Linked DNA regions of Homo sapiens: region 2 is linked to region 1. A link means that fine-mapping ties the variant in region 1 to the expression of a gene that starts in the linked region. Tissue or cell type: blood mononuclear cells. Region 1 holds a variant in brackets; the other region holds the start of a gene. All regions are shown on one strand. Distances are between the middles of the regions.

Region 1 (2,848 bases):
AGCCTGCAACCACAGGGGAACCCAAGTGGGGGCTGAATGAAGAATCAGACACTGGGCCAGGCGTGGTGGCTCATGCCTGTAATCCCAGCACTTCGGGAGGCTGAGGTGGGTGGATCACAGGAGGCCAGGAGTTCGAGACCAGCTTGGCTCACATGGCAAAACCCTGTCTCTACTAAAAATACAAAAAGTAGCCAGGTGTGGTGGTGCTTGTCTGTAATCCCAGCTAGCTGAAGCACAAGAATCGCTTGAGGCTGGGCTTGGTGGCTCACGCCTGTAATCCCAGCACTCTGGAAGGCCGAGGCGGGGGAATCATGAAGTCAGGAGATCGAGACCATTCTGACTAACACAGTGAAACCCCATCTCTACTAAAAGTATAAAAAGTTAGCCGGGCGTGGTGGCGGGCACCTGTAGTCCCAGCTACTCAGGAGGCTGAGGCAGGAGAATGATGTGAACCCAGGAGGCGAAGCTTGCAGTGAGCCGCGATTGCGCCACTGCACTCCAGACTGGGCAACGGAGCCAGACTCCATCTCAAAAAAAAAAAAAAAAAAAAGAATTGCTTGAGCTTGGTGGGTGGAGGTTGCAGTGAGCTGAGATTGCGCCACTGCACTCCAACCTGGGTGACACAGTGAGACTCCATCTCAAAAAAAAAAAAAAAAGAAGAAGCAGGCACTGCATGGCAGGATCCAGTCGGATCACTACCCTATGCTTATAAAACGTGACCCAGTCCCCGGCTCAGGGGGACACTGCTTTGGGACTTGTTACAAGTCATAAAATCCCCTTGCTACATCCTCTCTGGTGGCGGTCATTGAACTGATACCCACCAAGTGGCCGAACCCACCAGTTGTGTGGATAACACTACAGGGTTATGAATCTTTTACCCGGGTCCTTCCATGTCACCGGGACAGCTTCTAGAGCAGGGGTTCTCAAGCCTGGCTAACACAAGTATCACGTGGTGAGGGGATGTCCAGTCCCGCTCCTCACCACCTGAATGGAAATCCCCGAGGATGTGCCCCCTGACTCCCCTCGCATCCCATGTTTTCTAAAATTCCCCAGGGGATTTTAGATTCTATCAGGCAGCAAAGTGAAGAGCCAGCAGCAAGGGGAACAGAGTCAAGAGGAGTGAGCCCCACTGGACAAGAGGGCCAGGTGCTAGAGCAAACCTCAGCTCTGCTCCCAAGCCAGACCATCACAGCCCCTCATCAAGACTTCACCTCCTAGGCCCAGCACGGTGGCTCATGCCTGTTATCCCAGCACTTTGGGAGGCTGAGGTGGGAGAATTGCTTGAGTCCAGGAGTTCAAGACCAGCCTGGGCAAGATGGTGAAATCTCGTCTCTATAAAAAAAAATTTTTTAAATTAGCTAGGCGTAGTGGCCTGCAGCTGTTGTTCCAGAAATTCTGGAGGCTGAGGTGGGAGGATCACTTGAGCCTGGGAGATCGAGGATTCAGTGAGCCCTATTGAG[G/A]CTTCAGTCAGCCCAATGCAAACAGCATTGCTACACTCCACCCTGGGCGGTAGAGCAAGACCCTGTCTCAAAACAACAACAAGAATAAAAGACTTCACCTACTGGGCACCTTGGGCGACTTCACCTACTGGGTTGGCCAGGCCTTGTGCTGGGCATAGAAAACACCAGAGATGGTGTTGGGAGTGTGTGTGTTGGATCTCTGTGTGTTGACCGTGGTGCCCATCCTCCACCACACCCTTCCTGGCCCTGGGCTGGTGATGTTCTTTCTTGGGTTGGGCCCTTTGAGCTGTCACACCTGCACTCTCTCTTCTGAGCCCCACACCATGGTCCGGCCACAGTCTCTCCTCAACTACCTCACCCCCAGGCCAGGCACCACTCCAGGAGCACCACCTATACTGTGTTCAATGAAAATGACACCCCCTGGAGTTGTGCAAGGAGGTGGCACTGCCCACCCCACCCCCAATTCGTGTAAATTTCCTGAGGGCAAGCTCTGTGTCCAGCCTCCCATCCGATTCTCTAAAGAATTCCTTTCTGTTCTCTGCATCTCAGTTCCCTCGTAGGGGCAGCACAGGGGAATTCCTGTGCGAGTCTTCCAGTTCAGCCATTTAGGATTCTACCCTACAACCCATTCACTTGTTTATTCATTTCAGTCCGCAAATACTTTTTGAGTACCTACTGTGTGGCAGGCATTGCTCTAGGTGCTTGGGCTATATCCATGAACAAAAAGTACCCATCTTTGCCCTCGTGGAGCTTACAATCTAGTAGATAGCAGTGAGGGTGACAGAGACCCAGAACAACACATAATGCCTAAGGAAATTCTACAGCATGCCGTGGGGGAAAGGAGCAAGGTACAAAGGCAGCTGGGAGAGGAGTGCATGTTCCTTCAGTAAGGTGGTCGGGGCGCTCATCCAAGAAGGAAGACTCGCAGGAGGTGAAGGAGGGAGCCAGGTAAGAAGCCCACGCACCAGCCACCAGGCAGTGGTGAAAGCGGAGGCAGAGTGAAAAGCCTCAGGCACACCCTGAGATTAACAAAGAAGTGAGAGAAGGGGCTTTAGGACCTGGAGGTTTAAAGCCAGCAGCAAAGAAAGGACGGAATTCTGTTCTTATTGTATGGAAAAGACAATGACAATGGCACTGGACTGCTCCAGCCAGAGCCAGGGGTAACCAGCCTCCACCCCAGCTGAACAATGGGGGAAGCAAGGCTGAAGGAAGTGAAACCCTTGACCAGAAGCGGGAGAAATCTCCTCCCCACCACCTTCCCCACTCCAGACCAGCAGCTCTGGGCCAAGAGGCCTGATACCCAGCTCCCAGCCCAGGTCATGGTGGGTGAGACACATCATCTGTCCCCTTCCGTGTGCTTTGAACTTACCAATCATATTCCTGCCTCA
Region 2 (2,500 bases), 35 kb before region 1:
TTACTCTCGATCTTGTCAGACCACTTGGCTATTCGGGAATTATTTCATCAAGCTGAAGATATTCCCTAAAAGATCCCAGTGAAGCCTGTTCCCTACAATTGACAATGTTTTATATTTTAAAAATACATAAATTAATAACGTTCCAGAAACATTACTTGCTCTTTTTTCAGCATTAGCATAACTAGAAGAAAATGATTTTATAAATTTCCAACATAAAATGAATGTCTCTGCGATCATCTGTAAGATTTCATCTCCACCGGAAGTAAGATCATGACAACCAAAAGTCGCTTTGACGAAACAAATCTAGGACATGTGTGTCATTGTGACTCAACATTTCCCTTACCATTTGGCGGAACCTAGTGTTTTTCTACTATAGGTTCAGCCATCTCTCTATCAAGCCATGACCTCCGTCTTATTTAGACATGATTCCTTATTTGCCAAAGAATAACAAATTGTATTTTTCTTACAAGCCTATCATTTTCATTGTCTTAGTCATTACAGGTTTTAAGTTGTTTCAGTCTGACTAAACAACACTAAATGGTAGATAAACCTAGGAAGATATTTCCGAATATGATGCTTCTCTGAGCAAGAGCACAAATACCAAATTATTTGGCCTTCTCTTTAAAATCTGAGAGGTTTTACATGAACTATGTCTAACCATAATTGAGTTTTCAGTAAGAACCAAGTTTATCTTTAAAAAAAAAAAAAAGAAAAGAAAATACACACAGTCAGATTCACCCCAATTGGAATATAACGTCTCCCAGTGTTAAAATAACAATGACACCGTCACAGCGCACTAAAACTTGGGGCTGATGTAGACACTTAGGGGTAGGCAGACACCCCCCAACAGTCAAAGGTGCCATCTCCTCCATGCAACAGGCACAGGAGTCATTTTCTAGATTCCTTTTTTGAGCTTTTAAAATTTATAAACCTCACATTTTCATCCCAAAATAGCACATTTCAATCATTGTAAGAGTTTACAAGACTGCACACGCCACAGAGTTTAATTTTTCTTGGTACCAAACTTAACAGAACTCATATTAAAGGGTTCAGCGACCCCAAATCCTTCTTCTTTGCCTCCTTTCTCACAATATTATACATTCTATGCCTTAAAATGAATATAATGACTTGCATGGACCACAGGGCTTACAGAGAAGATGGCTGGGGAACAAGACTCCTGAGTCTTACCTTGAACTGAGGATTCCAGAACCAGGATGAGGGCAAGAGCCAGGACAAGCCGACTGCATTTGAGTAGCTTCTGCATCATGACCAACTTAGTCTAGCTCTCCCAGCTGCACGCCAACTTCTTGATTAGGAAATGTAGCAGGGTGCTCTCTGTCCCTTTTAGAAAATGTTCCAAAACCTCAAACCCTGCCCAGAACACACGTCACAATTTCCTGAACAAATAGAAAGACATCCACATCAAAACCCAGAAAGAAAGGGGGTGGGGGGAACACAGTAAAATAACTATTCATACCCATTATGAAACTGTACTGGACTCCCCCCAGGCCTGCTTTTTCAAAAGTTTTGTTGTTTGCCACTTGCCTGCAAGACATTTTTTTTTCCCACCGAAACAGTAGAATCAGCATTTGGGACAGTTTGTTTTTCCTTTCTTCAGGTAACAATCTAAACACTAGATTGCTAATATTAAGAATCTGCTGCATTTTTTATGAGATAAGGGATCTAGGTGCTGCCTTTTCGTCACCAAGCACTTTCAACATAAAACATTCTCTTCATTTTCTTTTTCACCGGGGAGTAACATACCTCACTGAGCCAAGCTCGTGAAGTGAAACTTCAAAGCTGAGCTCTAACCTTCAAGAATGAGTTGTCGGATTTCAGATGAACAGTTTCTTCTTCTTCTTTTTCTTCTTTTTTTTTTTTTTTTTTTTTTTTTTGAGATGGAGTCTCACTCTGTCACCCAGGCTGGAGAGCAGTGGCGCGATCTCAGCTCACTGCAACCTCCATCTCCAGGGTTCAAGCAATTCTCCTGCCTCAGCCTCCTGAGTAGCTGGGATTACAGGCGTACACCACTGCGCTGGACTAATTTTGTATTTTTAGTAGAGACGACGTGTCACCATGTTGGCCAGGCTGGCCTCAAACTCCCAACCTCAGGCCATCCGCCTGCCTCAGCCTCCCAAAGTGCTGGGATTACAGGCGTGAGCCACCGTGCCCAGCAAACAGTTTCTTCTTAAACTCAGTTTCTTGCATTGGATCATTGGCTCTCTCTCTATCTCAAGAACATAGGATTTTCAGTTACAAAGACTGTGGTAAAACAGAAAAACTATTTTGCATTCCCCTCTCCTTCACATTGAGCATTTCTTAAGATGGATTCCATTTCTATTTTTATCTGTTCTCCTAGTCAAAATTTTCAACTCGAGTTTTGGGTCCTCTGGCCTTGAATAAGCCAGAAATCAGGAACGAGGGAGAGGTTGTCCTCACAGTGAGCTGCTGGACCTCAGCAAACAACACAAACCTCTGCCTCATGTAAATAAAGGAACAG

Evidence for each region. PIP is the estimated chance that this variant, and not a neighbour inherited with it, causes the effect.
Region 2: SRGN starts here. The variant in region 1 is fine-mapped to the expression of SRGN in blood mononuclear cells (TOPMed, PIP above 0.99).

What each region holds. Positions count from the first base shown.
Region 1 is chr10:69,052,095-69,054,942 of GRCh38, reverse strand. No RefSeq gene overlaps it. Among named protein-coding and RNA genes, the nearest start is that of SRGN, 35 kb to the left of the region's middle. RefSeq lists a silencer at 32-81 and enhancers at 932-1,091, 1,221-1,720, 1,721-2,222, 2,343-2,452, 2,593-2,722. The variant G/A (reference allele first, on the strand shown) is at 1,461.
Region 2 is chr10:69,086,925-69,089,424 of GRCh38, reverse strand. SRGN (serglycin) reads right to left here and starts at 1,322. Exons shown (of 3, transcript NM_002727.4): 1 at 1,189-1,322. The coding sequence starts at 1,267. RefSeq lists an enhancer at 1-1,191.